Linked DNA regions of Homo sapiens. The protein of the gene in region 3 purifies or fractionates together with the protein of the main gene of each other region. This does not show direct contact. Each region holds a gene or a part of one and is shown on either strand. Other genes may lie near its edges.

Evidence for each region.
Region 1: the proteins of SPRTN (region 3) and DDX17 purify together in Homo sapiens (affinity purification with mass spectrometry, with the first as the bait; 2 studies listed by BioGRID). This does not show direct contact.
Region 2: the proteins of SPRTN (region 3) and PGM3 purify together in Homo sapiens (affinity purification with mass spectrometry, with the first as the bait; 2 studies listed by BioGRID). This does not show direct contact.
Region 4: the proteins of SPRTN (region 3) and POLD1 purify together in Homo sapiens (affinity purification with western blotting; 2 studies listed by BioGRID, with this or other methods). This does not show direct contact.
Region 5: the proteins of SPRTN (region 3) and MCM6 purify together in Homo sapiens (affinity purification with western blotting; 2 studies listed by BioGRID, with this or other methods). This does not show direct contact.
Region 6: the proteins of SPRTN (region 3) and PSMC2 purify together in Homo sapiens (affinity purification with mass spectrometry, with the first as the bait; 2 studies listed by BioGRID). This does not show direct contact.
Region 7: the proteins of SPRTN (region 3) and CAND1 purify together in Homo sapiens (affinity purification with mass spectrometry, with the first as the bait; 2 studies listed by BioGRID). This does not show direct contact.

Annotation. Positions count from the first base shown.
Region 1 is NC_000022.11:38,489,312-38,492,811, reverse strand, and holds part of DDX17 (probable ATP-dependent RNA helicase DDX17 isoform 1 precursor), read left to right. Parts: intron 1-696; coding exon 697-756; intron 757-3,500. UniProt on the Homo sapiens protein: As an RNA helicase, unwinds RNA and alters RNA structures through ATP binding and hydrolysis.
Region 2 is NC_000006.12:83,179,766-83,183,265, forward strand, and holds part of PGM3 (phosphoacetylglucosamine mutase), read right to left. Parts: intron 3,214-3,500; coding exon 3,080-3,213; intron 2,167-3,079; coding exon 1,971-2,166; intron 203-1,970; coding exon 45-202; intron 1-44. UniProt on the Homo sapiens protein: Catalyzes the conversion of GlcNAc-6-P into GlcNAc-1-P during the synthesis of uridine diphosphate/UDP-GlcNAc, a sugar nucleotide critical to multiple glycosylation pathways including protein N- and O-glycosylation.
Region 3 is NC_000001.11:231,341,293-231,344,792, reverse strand, and holds part of SPRTN (DNA-dependent metalloprotease SPRTN), read right to left. Parts: intron 1-3,500. UniProt on the Homo sapiens protein: DNA-dependent metalloendopeptidase that mediates the proteolytic cleavage of covalent DNA-protein cross-links (DPCs) during DNA synthesis, thereby playing a key role in maintaining genomic integrity.
Region 4 is NC_000019.10:50,387,347-50,390,846, reverse strand, and holds part of POLD1 (DNA polymerase delta catalytic subunit), read right to left. Parts: intron 3,188-3,500; exon of another isoform or gene 3,043-3,187; intron 1-3,042. UniProt on the Homo sapiens protein: As the catalytic component of the trimeric (Pol-delta3 complex) and tetrameric DNA polymerase delta complexes (Pol-delta4 complex), plays a crucial role in high fidelity genome replication, including in lagging strand synthesis, and repair.
Region 5 is NC_000002.12:135,839,126-135,842,284, forward strand, and holds the end of MCM6 (DNA replication licensing factor MCM6), read right to left. Parts: intron 1,827-3,159; coding exon 1,710-1,826; 3' UTR 501-1,709; downstream 1-500. UniProt on the Homo sapiens protein: Acts as a component of the MCM2-7 complex (MCM complex) which is the replicative helicase essential for 'once per cell cycle' DNA replication initiation and elongation in eukaryotic cells.
Region 6 is NC_000007.14:103,357,643-103,361,142, forward strand, and holds part of PSMC2 (26S proteasome regulatory subunit 7), read left to right. Parts: intron 1-3,500. UniProt on the Homo sapiens protein: Component of the 26S proteasome, a multiprotein complex involved in the ATP-dependent degradation of ubiquitinated proteins.
Region 7 is NC_000012.12:67,272,358-67,275,857, reverse strand, and holds part of CAND1 (cullin-associated NEDD8-dissociated protein 1), read right to left. Parts: intron 2,359-3,500; exon of another isoform or gene 2,232-2,358; intron 1-2,231. UniProt on the Homo sapiens protein: Key assembly factor of SCF (SKP1-CUL1-F-box protein) E3 ubiquitin ligase complexes that promotes the exchange of the substrate-recognition F-box subunit in SCF complexes, thereby playing a key role in the cellular repertoire of SCF complexes.

The DNA.
Region 1 (3,500 bases), on a different chromosome or scaffold from region 3:
CATATTTTGTTTAAGAAATAAAATGTGGCCGGACACAGTGGCTCACGCCTGTAATCCCAGCACTTTGGGAGGCTGAGGTGGGCGGATCACCTGAGGTTGGGAGTTCGAGACCAGCCTGACCAACATGGAGAAACCCCGTCTCTACTAAAAATACAAAATTAGCCGGGCATGGTGGCATATGCCTGTAATCCCAGCTATTTGGGAGACTGAGGCAGGAGAATCGCTTGAACCCGGGAGGTGGAGGTTGCGGTGAGCTGAGATTGCGCCACTGCACTCCAGCCTCGGCAATAAGAGCGAAACTCCATCTCAAAAAAAAGAAAGAAAAATAAATAATATGCATACCTTTTGGGGGGAAATTCAGTTCTTTTCATTCTACATCTTTTGAACTTGTTTCCTACTGACCCCCAACTTTTGGTTGTGTCTCATTTGGGAAATAACTTTAAGGGGAAAAAAATCTAGCTCATATTAATTATGTAACAAATTGCCACACTCTCTTAACGGTATTTCATTATTAGTAGAGGTAACTATTGTGCTGCTGAATATGAGTGTAATAAAGATTTTCAAAAGAATCACTGTCAGTCATTACAAGAGCTTGGGATTTTCTGGCACCATTATTTGAAATTTTAACATGGTTATGTAAACAGATCAGATAGCAAGGAATGCTTATTTGATGATGATTATTGTTTGTTTTTACAGAGTTCCGTTCTGGAAAGGCACCCATCCTTATTGCTACAGATGTAGCCTCCCGTGGGCTAGGTTTGTATAGATAGGTGTCTCTGTCAATGGTATATGTATCTTTTGGTTTAAAGATTCGTCATTTCAAATTCAGACTTCAAGTTTAGAAAGTTGTATATACATGTGGTTAGATAAATATTTGAAAGAAAAAAATACAAAGCGTGATTCTCCCCATTCCCTGCCCCCCCCACAATTTTTTTTAACTTTGGTTTCCCCCACCCCCCTTTTATTTTCAAAGTCTCTTCCTGCTCCTAACAAACAGGCTTTGGTCTGCAGCAAGGCCTAGGCATGACTATTCAAACAGAGGGAGAGGAGACAGACAGCTGAATGGCTCAGCTTCTCTCTGGTGGTGGTTTCTGGCTGGATAGAATAAGCCTGACGAAACCTAGCTATTGTAAGCTAGTTTCTTCAGTTATTCTTTTCCCTATCCCTGTCTAAGCTAGATATATACAGAGAGGTCCAGTTTTATGAATGCTTATTAGATGGAATTTTATAAGTCTAATGCAGTATCAGAATAGCAAATATGTGTATTGCCCAGTTTAATTTACTGAGGTCAAATTATCATGGGCACTTGGCTATCCCCTCCTACCCATGCACTTATCTGTAGGTGTGTTATCAACTGATGATTTTCTGGAGTTTTTGACCCATTACCATTTAAGATATACAGAGAATTTTATGGTAGTTTAGCCCACTATTCTGAGCTAAACAGGTCTAACTCAGAACTTCTATATTTTAAAAAAAAAGATTATTTGTATTACAAGGAAATCCTTAAATTATTGACAGGTATTTAATTTGCCCAGTAAGGTGAGAAGTACCATATTATTCCCTTATACTATATAATATAAAGAGAACAGGTATTCAAACTGGAATACAAAAGTAATGAAGCCTTTTTATGCATTGCACTCATCATTCCCTCCTTCAGAGGTGGTGACCTGCAGCCATGATGGAAAGTTCTCTCTGCCCCTCTGCCCTCTGAGGTCATGTCTGGATCTGTGCCATTAGAACTTGGGCCTGTTGGGAGAGGAGGCGGAGGCCTGAAAGCAGTTTACATAAAGCTTTCAGTAATGGTTGGTTTTTAAACAGGCTTGCTATGTGCTGGTAGCTTCTTTGTGCATCTTGCCTAGACAATTAAAAATATTTGCTCCATGTCCCCTTGCATTTCTAAACCAAATTAATTGGCTACCATTAGAATAACTTAGACTCTTCATCCCACCCCCACTCATCCAAGTGAGGGGAGAGGGAAGGTACCCGAGTCTGTTTCTTGTTACTCAACATCAGTGCTTGTTTTGGGCCCCTTTGTTTGCTGCCTTGTAAAAAATCAAAAGAGGGAGAAAACCCACCAAAATGGCAGAATTCTGACCAATGTCCTACAAGATCCTGGAAAGTGAAGGCTTCTACCTCATAGACAGGGGTGCAATTTTCAGCTGAGTCACCAGGGCCTTTTTTCACTTCCTGTCAAGCGATGGTCTCTTAAATGTTCCCTTCAGGTAAGTTCTTTGATTCCCATAATTTTATAATAGTCATCCTTAGGCTACCACTTCCCTTTCCACTGGGATATTTTTTATTTTTCCTTTTTTTTGTTTGAACTACACACTGTTAAACTAAAAGTATTGAATTTATTTTGTTTTGTTTTTTAACAGAAGCTTTGATATCAGCTGCAGATCACTCAATACATGGCCGAGACAAATCTACATTGGCCGGAAGCAGCTCTAGATGAGCCTCTTGGCTAGACTTAGTCCCTCCTTATTAGTGATTGGCGATTCAGGCCATGTCATAGGGCCTTTCAGACAAAAGGTTCTTATCCCAGTCAGCTGGCCAAAACATTAACTTTGGATTTCTTACCCTGCTACAGCATCTTCTAGAAAGGCAGCAAGATAATATTGTGGCAGTGCACAGATAACATCAGGGTAGACTTGACTGGAGAAAACCAAATTCTGCGCTTGCTCCTGTGTGCCCCCATCCAGCTGTGCATGCACACACAGGACACCTTTCTAGTATGAAGAACTTGCATCATGTCTGCCCTCTATTGAGCACCCCCTTCTAGAAATACTTCCAAGTATTAGCATGTGAACTGTTGACTCCACCCTGGTGCTTTCTGCTAGGAAAGCACACTTAACGCATCCAGTGTAGTAATTGAACTTGTTCTACTGCCATGGTCATATGCAGTGGGATTGCATAAGGAGCATTATCCTAGCTCTGAAGATACCATGGAGTAGAATTCCCCACCCCCTGTCTTACATCCACCCTGGCCCTGTAAATTCTTTTTTCCTTTGTTGCGTCAACGACCCTAGCCGGAGACTCAAGCTGCCCCCTGTGATAAGTGCCTTCTCGTCTTTCTGGTGTGATTCAGGACTTTAGGGGTCAGTAAAGACCGAGGAGCCTTTATTGTAATAAGAAACAGACATAATGCCCCTTCTTCACAAGCCCTGTAACAACAGCTAATTTTTTTTTTTTAATCTCCCCTTTCTCCCTTGAAATTAATCCAGTCTGGGCAATAGATGCAGTCTGACCCTTTGGATGTAACTTACATTTTTTTTTATTAATTATTTTTTTCTACAATCACCCCAATTATCCTTGGGGGAGGCGTTGGAGGACCTGAAATTTTTACCCGAACCCAGGTTCTCCGGCGCTTGGCAACCAAATGGGGCTACAGAGAAGCATCTAAGCCAGTTCACAGAGCGAGCGTGTGTGGGGACTTCTCACTGCCACGGACCCTTGATGCATGCTCCCCGCGCTCCAGTGGTCCCGTGTCAGAAGGCGGAGTT
Region 2 (3,500 bases), on a different chromosome or scaffold from region 3:
CTACTAAGTCTTGTTTTAGAGGGTAGCCAATCCCCCCACCATACCTCCACCAGGAGCTCTTTAAGGAAACTGCTAATTAACGTTGCTATCTTGTCTCCATCTATGAGATGAAAGTGGCCATCTGCATCATGGTAGTAATAAACAATTCTGTCTGCATCTCCATCAAAAGAACAGCATCTTTCATTGGACTTAATTTCCATTCCTAGCACACAGGATAATTTAACATGCATTTCAGTCTAAGAATTTATTATAAAGAGTTTTAGAATTTTCTCTTAAAATTATCCACCTAAAAATCAATGTCTTAATCTTAAATAGTGTATAATCTTTAAATAGTACATAGTTTATTAGTGGTTTTTACAGGTCAAATTCTTTCACTGCAAAGTGAAAAAAGGAGCATTCAAAATCTATGCTGATATTTGCTATAATACTACCATAAAATTCCACTTTATAAGCAGGTTGGTTTGGCTAGACAGGTGTCCCATAAAGGTTTTTTGAAAGCTACATGTATTTCTGAATGTAATTTACCTAGGACCGTGATCTCCTTTACATAGAAAAAATAATCAGCACTAGATGATGTATGTGCTTTAATTCTAACAGAAATGATTTTTATTTGTTCATACCACCAATAAAAAGAAACACTGATAATTAAGAGCAAAGAATTATAACTTTGAGAGATAACTGGCCTGTGAAATTTACATAAAGTTGCTGAAATCTCAGCAATTGTCACATCAAATTTATTAGAAAATTTGGCTATTCCTTAGCCATGACAGCAGCAGAGTGACAAATTCAACATGAGACAACTAAGAAGTAAAAGGCTTTTGTCAGGAATGGGATCATAAGATTGATGAAAGGACATGATGCAAGCTTCAGGAAAGCAAGGACTATGGTTTTGTTCATACTGTAGTCCCAAAGCCTAGAGCATAGAGAGTAAGAGCTCAGTATTTAAGAAATGGATAAATAAGTGGCAGAACTGAACTGTCAAGTAAATGTCAAAACAAGCAATTCAATGAAAAGGAGCTCAAATTGGTTGACTACACTGACATTTTAAATGCTTACTAAGTAAAGCATAATAACATGAATGAATGAGGCAACTGGATGAAGTCTGTAGAGTTCCAGAATGCATGTCCTATTTTAGGGGAGCAGCATCTATCTGACTGTAGTGGACTAATGCCATGTGTGAACATTTTCTGATTTTGGTAAAGAGATGCTAGAGATTCCAATATATAAGAGAAGTCACGGAATTTTTAAACAGTGGCACACAGACAAACACACAAATGCAGCCAGCCAAACAAAACATATCTGCAAGTCAGGTTTGGCCTAAGCAAATAATTTAGGGTCTATAATGCAGATAAATCCAGAACACCTCTTACTACAACTAAAATCTGAAGAAAAGTCTTCCTCCTATTCTGCACTGAGTGGAAAACACTGATTGCTAACAACTGTATAAGCAGAGTTACATTTGCTTTCCATAGTGTATTTAATTCAGATAAGGTATCTAATAATACTTACTATGCTCCCCTGTAGATCTGTGATTCTCAAAAAGGGATCCCCAGACAAGCACTGGGAACAAAGCCTGCAAACTTGATAGAAATGCAAATTTCTATCATATGCAAATCCTATGCCAGACCTCCAGAAACTCAGAAGTGGAGCCCAGGAATCTGTGTGCTAACAAGCCCTCAAAGTGATTCTGACACATGCCAGTTTGAGAACCACTGCTCTAGAATGCCATTTCCTGACTTTGCTTTCCCCACCTGATTTCCTGTAGACTATGAGGAATGGTGTGATTTACAGGCAGAGAGAGCAGACCATGTTTCAATGGCTCTGAGAGTGGGAAGACTTCTCAATGTCTAAATGTGGCAGAGCCAGGAATAGCTGCAAGATTCTTAACTCACTTTACCACCTTAGTTTATAAGTGAGATTGGCTTCAAAGAGCATTAAAAACAAATTTTTGCAGTGCTAGTACGACATACCCTGTGGAGGTTTCTGATGACTTTTCACAAAGTCAGCTCCACATAAATGATTGAGTTTGCCCTTGGACCCATCATTAAACAGCTGAACTGACAGGCCCTGTGAGAAGTAGTGTTCCATTTCCCTTAGCTTCAGGGCCCCTATGCCATTTGCACAGTCAACCTTAAGTGATCTGTATTCATCTCCACTGCAAGAAGCCTACAAAGGAAAAAGACACATGGAAGAAAAATTTCAAGTTATAAAAATAAATGTGAAATATAAAGCATATATACATATGTGCATATGTAAATATTTAGTTAACTCATTTTAATTTTTAAATTTTATCAATTATAATTGTGTTCATTTTTCAATTTTTAAAATTATAAAACACTAAAGTAAAATTTAAAAACACCTGGAACAACAGAATAGTTTTGCTGATTGAACAACTTATAGCATAGAGCTTTATTAGAATTTAGTCTCAATTAACAGGGTCTCTTAAAAGTAATATTACAAGGGAGCCATTCAAATGCAAGAATAAGCACACAGACAAATGGGCAGTAATGACATGTCATTCTTTTTATAGTATGTGACATCATCATCAGGCAGATTTGTTTTTTTTCTAATTGTCTCCTCTCCCAGCTATCCTCACCCCAAATTATAAGTTCTATGAGAGCAAGGGCTTTTAGTTAATTGTGCCTGGTAAGGACATATACTCAATATTTGTTGATCAAACGAATTATACTTCTCAAATCTCTCTACATTTAACAAGCCAATATACCTAGAAGAAAATCTCAATAGTACATGCCTCAGGTATTAAGCCAACAGCACCTACATTAACTAAGATCAAATTCATCTGAATGAATACTTATGATACCATCGTCAAGACCCCCACCATGTTTGCTTCCCCAAAGTATCTCAGAATGTACTACATAATTTGCCAAGTAAACGCCAATGTAAGTTAGCAGGATACATAGACCAGAACCTTGTGTAGCCCTAGAGAAAAACAAAAAAGGAGATATGCAGCATCTTTGGAAAAGGAAAGAGGAGGCATGACAAACAAGATAATTTGTTCAGTAGACCATGTTACTTTATTCATTTGTTTAACTTTAACCATGTTCAATAAACTTTTCACCTGTTTGGTGAGTTCCACAAAAGCCTTAGAGAGTTTCTGGTAGTAACCTTCTATAGTTGCCTTTCCATATCGGCCACCCGTGTTTCGACAATACACCATGTAGTGCAGCTGGGGTGTTGTTAACAAGCCATAATCTGTCATAGAAATACAAAAAGCAATTCACCGCATTTCTTAACAAAGAGAAAAAAGTTTAAATGCATTCATGTGTAGGAATTTCAGGGTGACAAATCCTTTTGTGTCATCTCAGACATCTTAGAAAACATAAAAATGATCTTAAAAAGAAATATAAATGACTATAAGAAGCCAAAAAACCAATCATTACATATAAACAGGTAACAATGTAAATATAAAGCAATACAGACAAGTAATAATTGAGTTCTGTTTCCAGTAACATTGCAAACTACATAATTCAGATGAATCA
Region 3 (3,500 bases):
AAGATTGCTGGGGTTTTTGCTCTAAAAAATATAAATAATTTTTTTAAGCAAAAATCAGAAAGATCTTCAAAGACATACCTTTTTCATGATCCTCCATAATTTTTTTAAAAAACAATTTCCATCAGAAGAACTAGACTGTCATTAATGAATTTTAGTCTTATAAAATTATGCTGAACAGAAAAATGAGAGAATCAAACATTTTAACTTGGTCATTCATATATCCCTCTAAAAATTATCAACTGTATCTCTTAAAAGGAACTTTATTTATTTATCTTATTATTTCTCAGAGATGGGGTCTCACTTTTTCACCCAGACTGGAGTGCAGTGGCATGATTATATTTCACTGCAGCCTCAAATTCCTGGCATCAAGGGATCCCTCTATCTCATCCTCCTGAGCAGCTGGGATTACAGGCGCATGTCACCACACCTGGCTAATTTTTTTTCAATTTTTTGTAGAGACAAGGTCTCACCATCTTACCCAGACAGGTCAACTCCTGGGCTCAAGCAATCCATCTATCTGATTACGTGCATGAGCCACTGTACCCAGCCAGAACTTTATTTTTCAAGTAAATGCCGCTCAACGAAGAAGACTCAAATTCAAGAAAGGTACTGCAAAAGTTTCTCAATGTTCTAAATTAGAGCAATGATAAAGATCTATTCTCATAAAGGAGAAACAAATTTAGGTTCCTGATTTTTGGTTCAATTTAATTAAACATTAAAAAACATCTTGAAAATGGTACTGAACTTTTTAAATATCTATCATTTTCCATATTTAGTCTTAATTCAAGGATCTATACACAACACAGTCCCAAAATACCTCTGTTTTCCATGACTGTTCTATCGGGTTAAAATGAACTACCTCTAGTCCTAAATATGCCCCCAGTTGTCTGAACTCACTTTTGTTCACATTATTCCCATGCTTTCTGCCAAGAGTAGCCTCCTGTCCTATCTCTGCTTGTCAAAAGTACAATTCGTCCTTTAATGCTCACCTCTCCATGTTTTAATCGCAGGAGTGATGAGTTGAATGGTAAAGGGGACAGAACAAGAGCCTTAGAGTCAGGGAAACTGGAACCTAAACCCACAATCACAGCATGAGACCTGGGACAGGCTCCAAGTGGCTCCTCATCCCTAAAATGGGATATCCTCATTTTGCATGGCTGTGGTAAAGACGACGTTTAGTCCAAAGTCTGACACACAATAGGTGCTCAATAGTGAGCAGCAGGAGTGGTGATGGTAGTAACAAAATGTACAGTTATAAAGCTTTTCTTGACCTCCTCAACCAGATAAAGTCTGTTCCTTTTCTGAACCCCCTTCTCTATGATTTAGGTAACTACAGTTGTGCCTCACTTGGCAGGGATATGTTCTGAAAAATCCATTGTTAGGCAATTTTGTCATTGTGCAAACATCTTAAGAGTGTACTTACACAAACCTAAATGGTATAGCCTATGTAATATATATATATATATACACACACCTAGGCTATAGAGTATATATACCTAGGCTATAGAGTATATATACCTAGGCTATAGGGTATATATACCTAGGCTATAGAGTATATATACCTAGGCTATAGAGTGTATATACCTAGGCTATAGAGTATATATACCTAGGCTATAGAGTATAGCCTGCCGCTCCTAGGCAACGAACCTGCACAGGATGTTACTGTACTGAATGCTGTAGGCAAGTGCAACATAATGGTAAGTATTTGTGCAACTAAATATAAAGAAGAAAAAAGGTACAATAAAAATATAGTCTTGGCCAGGTGTGGTGGCTCACGCCTGTAATCCCAGCACTTTGGGAGGCTGAGTCGGGCGGATCACGAGGTCAGGAGATTGAGACCATCCTGGCTAACATGATGAAACCCCGTCTCTAGTAAAAAAAATACAAAAAATTGGCCTGGCATGGTGGCGGGTGCCTGTAGTCCCAGCTATGTGGGAGGCTGACGCAGGAGAATGGCCTGAACCCGGGAGGCGGAGCTTGCAGTGAGTGGAGATGCGCCACTGTACTCCAGCCTGGGCAACAGAGCGAGACTCCATCTCAAAAAAAAAATAAATAAATATAGTCCTGGCCGGGCATGGTGGCTCATACCTGTAATCCCATTCACTTTGGGAGGCTGAGGCAGAAGGATCACCTGGGGTCAGGAGTTTGAGACCAGCCAACATGGTGAAACCCCGCCTCTACTAAAAATACAAAAATCAGCCAGGCGTGGTGGCGCACACCTTTAATCGCAGCTACTTGGGAGGCTGAGGTAGGAGGATCCCTTGAACCAGGGAGGCGGAGGCTGCAGTGAGCCGAGATCATATCATTGCACTCCAGCCTGGGCAACAAGAGCAAAACTCCATCTCAAAAAACAAAAAATAAAAATAAATAAATAAATAAAAATATGGTCTTATAATCTTATGGGACCACTGTTATATATGGGGCCTGTCATTGACGAAAATGTCATTTTGTAACTTTCTGCCAACAGGAAATGCTCACTTGATACTATTATACATTCCCCATTCTCTTCTCACCCACTACTTAAAAACATTTTTTTCTCATGTGTTTATGTAATCATTTACCCAATACATATTCATTAAGCAACTCTTCCAGTTAGGGCTCCTTCTAAGGCTGATTTGGTTAATCATGCTGTTCAACTTTTTAAAATGTGTATTATTTTTTTCCGCTTATTCATTGGGTTACTAAGAAGGTTGTGTTAACATTCTTCAAGTATGAGTCTGGGTGTCTTGGCTGACACCTGTAATCCCAGCACTTTGGGAGGCTGAGGCGGGAGGATTGCTTGGGCCTGGGAGGTTGAGGCTGTAGTGAGACAGGGTCTTGCTCTGTCACCCCAGGCTGTAGTGCTGTGGTGTGATCTCGGCTCACTGTAACCTCCACCTCCCGAGTTCATGCGATTCTTGTGCGTCAGCCTCCTGAGTAGCTGGTACTACAGGCTGTGTCACCACACGCAGCTAATTTTTGTATTTTTAGTAGAGACGGGGTTTCACCATGTTGGTCAGGCTGGTCTCAAACTCCTGGCCTCAAGTGATCCGCCTGTCTCAGCTTCCCAAAGTGCTGGGATTATGGGCGTGAGCCACCGCACCCAGCCTGATTGTATATTCTTTTTGCTTCTGCTAATTTATGCCTCATAAAATTTAAAGTTATGTTATTACTTTTGGAGAGATTATGTATTGTTGCTTAATAGATTATTTTATTATTATAAAATATCCCACTTTTCCTCTAGTAAAACTTCTTCCCTTGAAGTCTTTAGTCTGATACTAATACTGGTTGAACATCCCTAATTTGACAATCCAAAATCTGAAATGCTCCAAAATCTAAAACTTTTTGAGCACTTACAAGATGATTAAAGGTTAAGTTCTAAGGAAATGCTCACTAAAGCCATTTCAGATTTGGGACTTTTGGATTAGGGAAGCTCAACCAGTAAGTATAATGCAAATATTCCAAAGTAAAAAAAAAAAAAATCTGAAACACTTCTGGTCCCACTTTGGATAATGAGTACT
Region 4 (3,500 bases), on a different chromosome or scaffold from region 3:
TAAATGGATTAAGGGCGGTGCAAGATGTGCTTTGTTAAACAGATGCTTGAAGGCAGCATGCTCCTTAAGAGTCATCACCACTCCCTAATCTCAAGTACCCAGGGACACAAACACTGCGGAAGGCCGCAGGGCCCTCTGCCTAGGAAAACCAGAGACTTTTGTTCACTTGTTTATCTGCTGACCTTCCCTCCACTATTGTCCTATGACCCTGCCAAATCCCCCTCTCCAAGAAACACCCAAGAATGATCAATAAATACTAAAAAAAAAAAAAAAATAGTTCTCAAGAATAACTGTAGAATGTGCTAGGAATGCAATATCCTGAGATAAGGAGGGACTGGCTGAAACAGCCCAGGCTCTGTTCCAGTCCCTCCTAGAAACAGGATGTCCTTCATCATTTTAGCCCAACATGTCATGTTGCCTCCAGAATATAAAACCCAAGATGGTCTGCTTTCCAGGTACAAATGGGGTACACACAAATGAGACTCCATCCTCCCGGGGCAACCTTCCTGAGTCTCGGGAGATTGGCTCACAATGAATCCTATGCTTCGGTTTTCCCTTGTTGCCTAGCTGTAAATAATAAATTTACTTCATGTAACTTGAAAAAAAAAAAAGAAAAGAAAAGAAAAAAAGAAATTATTGGCCAGGCGCAGTGGCTCACACCTGTAATCCCAACACTATGAGAGGCTGAGGTGGGTGGATTACCTGAGGTCAAGAGTTTGAGACCAGCCTGGCCAACATGGTGAAACCCTGTCTCTACTAAAAATATAAAAATTAGCTGGGCGTGGTGCCAGGCGCCTGTAATCCTAGCTACTCGGGAGGCTGAGGCAGGAGAATTGATTGAACCTGGGAGGTGGAGGTTGCAGTGAGCCAAGATCGCACCACTGCACTCCAGCCTGGGTGACAATGAGGCTCTGTTTCAAAAAAGAAAAAAAAAACAAAACAAAAAACAAAAAAAAAAACAGGCTGGACATGGTGGCTCACGCCTGTAATCCTAGCACTTTGGGAGCCCAAGGCGGGCGGATCACCTGAGGTCAGGGGTTCGAGACCAGCCTGGCCAAAATGAAACCCCGTCTCTACAAAAAATACAAAAAAATTAGCCGGGCGTGGTGGTGCATGCCTGTAATTCCAGCTATTCGGGAGGCTGAGGCAAGAGAATGGCTTGAACCCAGGAGGCAGAGGTTGCAGTGAGCCGAGATAGTGCCACTGCACTCCAGCCTGGGCGATAGAGCAAGACTCAGTCTTGGAAAAAAAAAAAAAATAAGAAATTATTTATAGCCTTGAAGAATATTACAGGGACACGTGGCAGATCTAAATAAGAATCGTCTATTCAATAACGTCACTGTCTCATGTTAAACTGCATGATGATGACAATGACACTGTAGTTCTGCAGGCGGACATCCCTGTTCTTAAGAGCTGACTGCTGGAGGCCAGGTACGGTGGCTCACGGCTGTAATCCCAGGACATTTGGAGGCCGAGGCAGGGGGATTGCTTGAACCCAGGAGTTTGAGATCAGCCTAGGCAACATGGTGACACCCTGTCTCTATAAACAATATAAAAATTAGCAGGGTGTGGTGGCACACACCTTTAGTCCCAGCTACTCGAGAGGCTGAGGATCAGCTGAGCCTGGGGAGGTCGAGGCTGCAGTGAGCTGTGACCACCCCACTGCACTACAACCTGCATGACAGAGTAAAATACTGTACCAAAAAAAAAAAAAGAGGCCAGGTGCGGTGGCTCATGCCTGTAATCCCAGCACTCTGGGAGGCAGAGGCACGTAGATCATAAGGTCAGGAGTTCAAGAGCAGCCTGGCAAAGATGGTGAAACCCCATCTTTACTAAAAATACAAAAATTAGCCAGATGTGGTGGTGCGCGCCTATAGTCCCAGCTACTCAGGAAGCTGCAATAGGAGAATCGCTTGAACCTGGGAGGCAGAGGTTGCAGTGAGCCAAGGTCGCACCACTGTACTCCAGCCTGGGTGACAGAGCAAGACTCCGTCTCAAAAAAAAAAAAAAAAAAAAAAAAAGAGTTAACTGCTGGAGTTTTCAGAGGTGAAGTATCATGATGACCACAACTTTCAAATAGTTCAGCCAAAAAAAGGACAAAAGGTACAGGTATATGCATGTGCTTGGATAAAGCATAAAGCAAATGAGGTGTCATGCCAACAGCCAGTGAATCTAGGCAAAGGGCCATGGCTGTTCACTGTACTCAATTTGTACCTTCTCTGCAGGTTTGAAACTTTTCAAAATATTAAGGGGGAAATATATAAAATGAAAATAGTAACAAATTTACAAGGTGGGCAGAAGAGTATGTAGAAATCTTTTTGCTTTTAATGCAGGGAGTATGTAGACGTCTTTTTTATTGTAATGCAGGGAGTATGTAGACGTCTTTTTTATTGTAATGCAGGGCATATGTATAAATCTATTTGCTTTTAATGCATCATTCTATAAGGAGAGCTAAGAAACTGGTTTCCTGGGGGACAGGGTAGAAGACTTCATTTGCTAACTGCTTTATTGAGCTATAATTCACATACTATACAATTCACCCATTTAAAGTATATATAGTTCAATGGTATTTAGTATGTTCAGAGTTAGGCAACCATCACCACAGTCAATTTTAGAACTCTCTCATCACCCCAAAAAGCCTAAATCCTTTAGCTCTCTCCCTGCATTCAGCCCATCTGCCCCCACCCCTGGCAGCCACTCATCTAACTTTCTGTCTCCATGGATCTGCCTATTCTGGGCATTTCCTATAAATGGGATCTTGGAATATGCAGCCTCTTGTGTCTGGCTGCTTTCTCTGAATGTGTTCATCGCTCATGTGTGTGGCGGCCTTTCGTCAGTGCTGTGTCCCTTTTTTGCTGAGTACTTTTCCGCTGTATGGCTAGAACACGTCTGACGTATCCCTTCATCAGTGGATGGACATTAGGGTTGCTTCCACCTTTTGTGAGTGGTGCAGCCGTGAGCGTGTGCAGGGGGTTTTGTGTGAGGAAGACTTTGACTGCGTTTGTGCTCTTTGGGTGACAACCGCGTACATGTGTGACTTACAGGAAGAAGCAAGCGTCGTTAGCGGCTCTGGCTTCGGGTTGTGCAAGTAGCCAGAGAGGGACAGGGAGTGATGATCTGCGAGGAGAGACCCGGGTGGGACAGAGGAAGCGCAGGGGCTTGTGGGAGCCCAGAGTCAGTGCTGAAGCTGGAGGAGGAAGGAAGGAGCTGACTGGCTGCCCTTGGTCAGTTGGCTGTGGCTGCGGGGGTGCGGTGGGAGGGACGGTGTCACCAGGGGCAAAACCTGGGCTCTTGTTAGTGGAGGCACAGCAGCATTAGGAAGGAAAGGCCCCTGTGTGTCCCCTCTCATTGGCCCTGGCACAGGATGAGAGCTTGGCAAACACTGTCCTCTGCCCCTCTCACGACCCTTCGGTAGCAAGCACTTAACAGAGATTCAGCAACAAAATGACACCACGTGCTCGCTGCAGGCCAGACACCAGTTTTCTCGATGAGTGAGACAC
Region 5 (3,159 bases), on a different chromosome or scaffold from region 3:
CTGTTTTTTTTTAATAGACTCCCATGACTTTCCATAGACTGTAGAGGGTGAAGCCTGGGAATCTTTTTTTGTTGTTGTTGTTGCCGCCCAAGCTGGAGGGCAGTGGCATGATCTCAGCTCACTGCAACTTCCACCTCTTGGGTTCAAGCAATTCTCCTGCCTCAACCTCCTGAGTAGCTGGGATTACAGGTGCCCACCACCATGCCTGGCTAATTTTTGTACTTTTAGTAGAGACAGGTTTTCTCCACGTTGGCCAGGCTTGTCTCGAACTCCTGACCTCAGGTGATCTACTCACCTTGGCCTCCCAAAGTGCTGGGATTACAGGCGTGAGCCACCGTGCCTAGCCTTTTTTTTTCTTAAGTGAAAGCAAGGCTATTAGGAAAGTAAAGGAATAAAAAATGGTTACTACGTCAGCAGAGCAGCCTAGTCTTTAAAGATACATTACCTGATACCAGTCTTCTTATAAAAATCCCATGACAAATCTACTTGAGTATTCACTCTTGTTTTTAATGTTTGCCATTTATTTTTAAAATACTTAATTGTACATACTTGTGGAGTACATTTTGACAAGGTTTCATACAAGTTGATTCCAGGGAAAGAGATAATTATTGGGAGAAACATATTTAAATCATTGTTTTAACCTATATTAATCTGTCTTGCTTTCTACTAATAGATTTCTGGCTGCTCAAATTCACATTGCACTGGAAAGCTCAGACATCAAGGCAAGTTGAGTACTCATGGGTATTAGACTGTCCCACGTGGGCCTTAGCCTCAGACAGTTATTTTGCTTTTGTGACCTTTAACATACTTTGTGATTTAATGAATGCCATCTGTTGTTAAAAGCTGCAACACAGGAACTGCTCCACCTCATGAACATACTGATCATAGCTAAGTCTCAGGAACTGTTAGTATCATAAACGGTAATAACTTTTCCTGGAAGACCATAAAATTTGGGGATTGCTTGTAATATAGCAAATGACCTATTTCCCCTAAAAAAGCAATTTGAAAACAATCCTGAGAAATTACCCTTAGGACACAGAAGTAAAATAAATTACTAAAGAGTAATTTTAAAAAAGTATAATAAACTTTTATAAACTTAAAAAAAAAAAAAAACAACTGGAATTAACCTTGGAAAGTCATCTCTAAGGCCTCTAGCTTTCATATGAGTTCTCTAATGACTCCTTCTCATAGAAACCTCATCCATAATACCACAGTTCTACCTCTTCACTCCAGGTTAAGCAAAAAGGGAAAGTCTCACATTCAGAAGTAGATGGAAGTAATAATCAGGGTACAGTAGAAAGAAATCCAATAGACAACTTCAGAACAAGTTATTTTATTTTGATGAATAAAAGCAGTAGCTGGCAATTGAAAAAAAGTTATTTGCTCAATAGGACAGCACATACCTTAAAAGTAATGGGCCTTTTCTTACACATGAAAACAAAGGTATTGGTTATAGAGACTACACATTATTTGGTTCCAACTTCACTGGGACAGGAAACACACCAAAGGAAGTGCTGAAGCCTGTGTTGGTATGAAACCTGTGATGAATGTGACACATAGGACCATCAACTCAATTCTTGTTTCTGAAAACAAATCCTGGAAGCATCACTTCCAGAAACACTTCTGTCCCTAGCAGAGCTCCAGCCAGGCTCCAGGCCACGAGGTGCTGTGCCACAGTTCCTCAGCTCTGGTCAGTTACTTTCACTATCTCAATCTTCGAGCAAGTAGTTAGGGTTAACTACCAAGTAGGGATCTTCTTCATAGCTCTCACTTCCCTCTGTGGAGCCTTTCAATCCAGCCTGGGTGAGCTCAATTAGAACATGATCCTGTGAAACACAAATATTTGTCCTCAGGTTTCAAGCAGTATTATACCAATGTCCAGATATACAAGACTTGACCCTTCTTCCGAGTGTTTGCTATCAACATTTTCTTTCATTTCCCAACTAGAAACTCCTAGGAAAAGGACCACACTTTAAAAATCACTATCAGTGCTCTGCTAAACCCTGTTCCTAGTAGGATGCTGACCTTTTCATACCATAAACCCCTTGTGGAAAATTAAGAAATACTTAAATATATTACATCAAATGCTTGTAAATACAACTTCAAAAAAGGAAGTAATGCTTGAATTTTAAGGTTAAACAACTCTGCAAAATCTTCTAATTAATTGGAAGTCTGTTTCATACTTAATATCATTCAGCAATTTTTAATTATGACCACTGAACTTTTTCATATACCACCATTTCATAGAGTTAGGAGAAGAATCTATGAAAATTCATCTGAAAAATTTTTCACTCTGAGCTAATAAAAAAAAAGGTAGAACATGCCATCTGGCTTAAAATCTTGATGACAGATTTTAAGCCCACGATATAATTACAGGTTAGTCAAAACTGTCCACAAATGAGAAGAGCTCCTAGCCAAGCCCATAGAAAGGAACTCAGGAAACTGTGATTTGATCCTAAGAAGTCTGGCAAGGCTCCACAGTATAAACACTGAAGCCACTAAGGGGGACTGGACACTTTTTAAAAAATTGCCCTTTCAAATCTACCCCTGAAGTTAGATTGGACACTTTCAAGCACTCACTCTATGTGTTAACATACCTTCATAGGAAGCATCATATCTCATCAGCACAGTATAAGCTCTCTAGTTTTCTGTAGCAAATTAGTTCAGGTGGTAAGCCAAATTTTAAAAGGTAATCCAGGCTGAGCGCAGTAGCTCATGCCTGTAATCCCAGCACTTTGGGAGGCTGAGGTGGGTGGATCACCTGAGGTCAGGAGTTTGAGACCAGCCTGGCCAACATGGTGAAACACCATCTCTACTAAAAATACAAAAATTAGCTGGGAGTGGTGGCGGGCACCTGTAATCCCAGCTACTCTGGAGGCTGAGATAAGAGAATCATTTAAACCCAGAAGGCGGAAGTTGCGGCGAGCTGAGATCATGCTACTGCACTCCAGTCTGGGCAACAGAGCAAGACTCTCTCAAAAGATAAATAAATAAATAAATAAATAAATAGGTAATTCAAGTTTAGATCAGTTAGCTTCACAGTGTGTTCCAAAGTCCTGAAGCAGATTCCTTGCCTGGGTCGTTTTACTTTACACTGATCCCAAGGAGCACACAGACATGTCCCACCACTAGAAAAGCAACTCTGGACCCTGATCTGAG
Region 6 (3,500 bases), on a different chromosome or scaffold from region 3:
GATCAGTATTCAGTGTTTATATGATTATGGCTATGTAAACACTATTCACAAAGAGCCAAGTGGTAAGCTGTGATTGCTTTTCCTTTCTTGTACCACTTCTTTTAGTGGTGGTTGTTATAACGTCTTGTTTTTTCATTTGCCTGGTTTTCTGTGCATATATTATGAACTCAACCTCCCACTTTCTCTTGATTGTCTAAACTGCTCTTCAGATGCATTAGATCTGTTCGTTTTCTCTCAGTTATACCTTAGTTGCATCTGGTGTTCTCTCGGTTTCATTTTCCTTAAGTTTTTCCCAGCACCTTCTGACCTGCTTTGGTTTGGACCAGTTGTCCTTTATGCCTGTTTAATGACAATTGTTGTCTGACTTCTCTACCCTGGAGATTGCCCTTTACCTCTCTCCTGTTGCTTGGTCTAATACATCCTCTGGTAGCTTCTTGGAAAAGGGTCAGTTGGGAGGTAATATTTTGAGACTGCATATGTCTGAAAGTGTCTTAGCTGAGTATACAGTTCTTTTCCCTTCAAAATTTTGAAGGCGTCGTTCTGTTGTCCTTTGCCTCCCAGTGTTACTCTGAAGCCATTCTGATCCTCAGTCCTGTATATGTGGCCTAATTTTTCTCTGAAAATTGTAGAGTCTTCTCTTGTTCTATTTTGAAATTTCATGGTGATGTGCCTTGGTGTTGGTCTGTTTTCATCCATTGTCCTGGGCTCTCTTGTCCTTTAGTAAGGCAAATCTTCTTGAAACTATTTGTTAATTTCTTTCCTTCCGTTTTCTTGGACCCTTATTCCTGAATTCTCTTATTTGGATATGGGGCCTCCAGGATTGCTCCTCTAATTTGCTAATCTTTCCTTCCTGTTTTTCTTCTTTTTGCCTTTTTACTTTACTTTCTATGAGCTTTTCTTTATCTTTGAATTTTTCTGTTGATGTTTTTTTCCTCCCATTTTTCTTCTCGTAGGTTTTTAATTTCTCAGGTAAAAAAACTCAGGTTTTTTATTTCAAGGCTCTTATCTTTATTCTTTCATTTTTGTGTGTGTGTTGAATGTTCTGCTCTTATATCATGGTTGTAATATGTTCTTATCTCTCTATGGTAAATTAAAAAATCTAGGTACATTTTTCTAGGCCGTATGAGGGGAATTTTCTTTTTTCTGTAAAGCAGTTAGAGGGAAACTTTTCATATAGATTTTTCATAACAGACAGACTAGCTAAAGAGCCCTATACCCCTACAAGATCCCAGGCCTTAAAGAAAGCAAAGATTATTTTGAAAAAGTTTCCATTGATTTTAGTCTCATACTCTTTGCTTAAAACTCTTGATAAAATTTGTGTATGTGTAATTTTTAGCTTGTGAATTTTTTTTTTTTTTTGAGACAAGGTCTCACTTTGTTACCAAGGCTGGAGTGCAGTAACATGATCTCAGCTCGCTGCAGCCTCTGCTTCCTGGGCTCCCACCTCAGCCTCCCAAGTGGCTGGGACCACAGGTGCATACCACCCCATGTCTGGCTTTTTTTTTTTTTTTTTTTTTTTTTTTTTTTTAATTTTTAGTAGAGACAGGGTCTTGCCATGTTGCCTGGGCTGCTCTTGAACTCCTAGGCTCAAGCCATCTGCCCACCTTGGCCTCCCAAAGTTCTGGGATTACAGGTGTGAGCCACCGTGCCCAGCCAGCTTATGAATTTTTTTAATAACAATCTTACTGATATAAAATTCAGATATCATGAGGTTCACTCTTTTAAAGTATACAATTTAGTGATTTTTAGAATATCTAGAAAATTGTGCATTGATCATCACTATCTAATTCCAGAATAGAATATTTTTGTCACCCCAAAAACAAACCCAATACCCATTAGCAGTCTTCATTCCCGTCTCTTTCCAGCCCCTGGCAACCATTTATCTACTTTCTGTTTCTATGAATTTGTCTATCCTGGACATATCATCTAAATGGAATCATATAGTACATGGCTTCCTTCACTTAGCATATTTCAAGGTTCATCCGTATTCTAAAATAGATGGAACTTTTTATGGCCAAATAATATTCCAGTCTAATTTCTCTATCTGTATTCACTATTGGTGAGACATTCTTCTCATCATTCCTATAAACTCTTTAGATATGGTTTCCTTTAGCTTTTTGAAAATATTTCTTGTACTGATTTAAGGTTTTTGTTTGACTGGGCGCAGTGGCTCATGCCTGTAATCCCAGCACTTTGGGAGGCTGAGGCAGGTGGATCACTTGAGGTTGGGAGTTTGAGATCAGCCTGGCCAACATGGTGAAACCTGTCTCTACTAAAAATATAAAAATATTAGCTGGGCGTGGTGGCAGGCGCCTGTAATCCCAGACACTTAGGAGGCTGACGCAGGAGAATTGCTCGAACGTGGGAGGCGGAAGTTGCAGTGAGTCAAGATCGCGCCACTGCACTCCAGCCTGGGCAGCAGTGAGATTCCGTCTCAAAAAAAAAAAAAAAGTTTTGTTTAATAACACCAACATCTAGGCTTCTTAAGGGACAATTTCTATTGACTGATTTTTTTCCCCTTATGTATGAGCCATAATGTCATACATAAGGGAAAATGCATTTCATAATGTTTTGCATCTCATAACTTTTTGGTGATAACTAGACATTTAAAATAATGTAATGTGTCACCTCTGGAAATCAAATTCTTCCTTTCCCCAGGGTTTGGTATTATTGCTGTTTGTTGTTCTTGTTTTTCCTTTCAGGTTTTTTGGTCAGCCTCTTTTTTTTTGGTAGAGAATGGGTATAATTCTTCTTCCCTAGCAAACATGGTTGGTAACAGAAAACAGAGTCCTTCACACAATTATGCTATCAGGACAAAGCATTCTTTTTTAGCCTTGACCTCCTGGGCTCAAGTGATCCTCCAGCCTCAGCCTCCTCAGTAGCTGGGACTACAGGTGCATCCCACCACACCTGGCTAAGCCAAAGCATTCTGTACCTTACTTTTAGCTCTACCTATGTGCGCACTCCACAGGCTATTTTTGTATTTCTCTGTAATTCTTGCTGTGGCTTATGTAGCAGCTTTCTAATGTGAGTTCTGTTTTTTGTTTTTGTTTTTCTTTAGTAGATAGATACTATAGAAGGGGAAAGGCGGTTGACTATTTTATACTGTGATGTGCATGGCATTATAAATTCATTTTTACCAGGCCATATGGAAATGAATATAATTAAGTTAAAAATAGCTTCTACTGGCCGGGTGCAATGGCTCACGCCTGTAATCCCAGCACTTTGGGAGGCCGAAGCAGGTGGATCACTTGAGGTCGGGAGTTTGAAACCAGCCTGGCCAACATGGTGAAACCCCGTATATATTAAAAATACAAAACAATTAGCCGGGCGTGCTGGCGCATTCCTGTAATGCCAGCTACTTGGGAGGCTGAGGCAGGAGAACTGCTTGAACCCAGGAGGCGGAGATTGTAATGAGCCGAGATCGCACCACTGCACTCCAGTCTGGGCTCCAGAGCAAGACTCTGTCTCAAAAAAAAGAAAAAGAAAAAAAAACAAGC
Region 7 (3,500 bases), on a different chromosome or scaffold from region 3:
ATTCAACAAGTATTTTGAGGGCACCAACATAAGGAACTCTACTCTGCAAACACAGTGATGAGTAACACAGTCTGGAACTTACACTAGGTATGCACTAGATCGATAGATACCTTGCACTCACAATAACTCTCACCACAGCCTCTCCCATCATACATAAACACAATTTTACTCTTGCTTCCAACCAGAAATCTAGTTGATATGGTCAATTTTATCACTCAGTACACCAATTACCTTTCAGAGATCCTGCACATACACCACTGCTATTTCACTTTTCCTCAGTTATTCCTTAGAGTGCTATGAATTAAGTTGGAACAGTTTTTTTTTTTTTCTTTTTGAGACAGTCTCCCTCTGTCACCCAGGCCACAGTGCAGTGGTGCAATCTCTGCTCACGCAACCTCTGCCTCGCAGGTTCAAGCAATTCTGCTGCCTCAGCCTCGCGAGTAGCTGGGATTACAGGTATGCACCACCATGCCCGGCTAATTTTTGTATTTTTAGTAGAGATGGGGTTTCACCATGTTGTCCAGGCTGGTCATGAACTCCTGACCTCAGATGATCTGCCTGCCTTGGCCTCCCAAAGTGCTGGAATTACAGTCGTGAGCCACCACACAAGACCTAAATTGGAATAGTCTTAATATTGTTCATGTAAAGAAATCTAATTTTTACTAATCTTTCTTCCCAGTTTTCTCTGTGAGGTCCCTTCCTCCTCTTTCTCAGTGGTGAGCCCTAATCACTGCTGATAACCAGTTAGCATAGTATATATCAAGAAAAAAACATCAAAGTAAAATCAAGAAAGTTACTGCCATCAACCTTCTAAGTATTTTTAAAAGTGCCCAGAAATCACCTTCTTAATCTCTGCAAATCTATTTCTTCTGATTAAACCTGCTTTTCTCCAAGCACAAGTACTTAAGATAATTTCACTATTTCCTGTTATGTTATTGTAAATGCCCACCCACACTGTACTTTCAGCTATATGATAGGATCTCTAAGGTTCCTTCCAGCTCTGAAAACCTGATTCCTTAAAAGGCTTGAGTTTTTTTTACAAGCATTTTAAACAGTTTCCAAAAGAAAATACCGTCCAATATCCAAAACACTTAAATAAATAAATCTGGTAATATAAACCTTTATCAAATTGGGAAAAACTTGCATTCCAAAATGGGGTGAATTATTTTAAGAAGATTCTATCAAGTGGTATTTAAACAAACAGTTTAGTTGATTTTACAATGGTTTTCTGGAGGTTCCTAAAATCCCTATATAATGGAAATAAAACCCAATTCTACTTAAACAAGCACCTACTGAGAACCCACATGGCCCAGAGCCAGACAAAGAGAACGATTCCGTTTAGTAAGACAAGGTCCCTATTCTTAAGGAGTTCTGTGGACAATATCCATCCAGCTACAGTCAGGTTATCTATTCCCTCTTCCCCAGTGAAGTTTTGTATCGTGTGCTTTACATTTTCACTTTCTATCTAGAGTTTCATTTTCAACACCTGGCTCAAATCTCTCCATGGACATGAATCTTCTTGCTTTAATATTCTCTGCCACTTAATGCCTGACAATTACATATTGCCCTGGGTTATTCATCTTTTTACAATAGTGTCTTAACTATTCAACAAGCATGTAGATTTAGGGAAAGTAAGCACCAGATCTTAAACTTTTTGTAGTCCTCAGGAATTATTAAAAGCATCTTCTAGCATGAAATATTCTATAAGCCTAATTTTAGAGGGAAATGAAATTTAAGGCCTGAATCTTAACATCCACTAGTCTAAACCCTGGAGAAGTGACATAGCTGGGTGGTCAAGAGTTCATGTTCTGGGGGTAAAGAGATCCTATAAGTCCCAGACCTACTATCTAACTGACCTTAAACAAGTACTTAATCTCTCCAAATCTCAGTTTCTTCAACTGTAAACGAGATTATTATTATCCTCTTTTACTAAAGTTGTAAGGATAAACAAAAATCAAGCTCACAGTAAGCATTAATATTAACTATTATATATAGAAAGATAATGATATTTTCTTTAGCTCTTGATTCCTTGGAATATTTTAAATCAACTGGTGGTTGAAGAATATGAAAATAAAAGAAGTGGCTGGGCACAGTGGCTCAAGCCTGTAATCCCAGCACTTTGGGAGGCCAAGGTGGGCAGATTGCCGGAAATCAAGAGTTTGAGACCAGCCTGGGAAACATGGTGATACCCATCTCTATAAAAAAAATTAGCTGAGTGTGGTGGTGCGCACCTGTAGTCCCAGCTACTCTGGGGGCTGAGGTGGGAAGAAAATCGCTTGAGCCCAGGAGGTTGAAGCTGCAGTGAGTTGAGGTGGTGCCACTGCACTCCAGCGTGGGTGACAGAGCGAGACCCTATCTCTAAAAAAAAAAAAAAAAAAGAAAAGAACTTAGTTACCTCAACCTACCAAATATTCAATATTAATATTCACAAATGGAGTGTCACATGGTTCATCCACATTAAAGCTTTCACTCTGGTATCAACCGAATCCCCTATCTATTGGCTACATTATAAGGTTTACTCTTTATTCCTTTATGGAACATGCATCCCTAGAGGTCCTTAAAATAACTATATACACTGGTACAAATGTTTTCTGGCAAAAAGTCTCAGTACACTCCAGAAGTGTTTCTTTTAGGGAGGAAGTGATGAGAAGCACTGTTCTAAGGTACTGTCCCAAGGAATGTTTCTTCATTTTTCTTCTGAAGGTTTTATTTGAATTGGCATTCATTAATAACTTTTCACTAAACCGAGGCTAGTAAGTAACAGGCACTATCCTAGTAATTAAGACACACAAATGCCTCCTCCTTTTTTTAATAAAAGAGCTCCTAGTCTCCTTTTTTTAAAACAAACAAACAAAAAACCCTGCATGGGTGGATGCGGTGCTGGCCTGTAATCCCAGCACTCTGGGAGGCCCAGGCGGGTGGATCACGAGGTTAGAAGATCGAGACCATGCTGGCGAACATGGTGAAACCCCGTCTTGACTAAAATACAAAAAATTAGCCAGGCGTGGTGGTGTGTGCCTGTAATCCCAGCTACTTGGGAGGCTGAGGCAAGGGAGTTGCTTGAACCTGGGAGGCGGAGGTTGAAGTGAGCTGAGATGGCGCCCCTGCACTACAGCCTGGCGACAGAAAAGACTCCATCTCAAAAAAACAAACAAAAAAAACCAAAACAACAACAACAACAAAAACCCTGCATATGGCAGAGTTCCTAATCTCAGCATTTCTCATCCTAATGCTTCCCCATTTCTCCTAAGTCTTAATATCTCATTTTTAAATAATGCACAATACTAAAACACAAAAGAAATATTACAATTTTTCAATAAATTGAGCCTTAATAGTCCTACAAAAAGATTCTTTTAAAATGCAGAAATTTCCAAATTTTTAAGCCTGCATTCATTTCTTTACCTTCTCTGTATTAATGAACTATGTAATTATATAAATAGACCTGAAATTTTATGCCTATAACAACCTTTTGTAATTAGTCATGTCCATGCCTCTCAGAA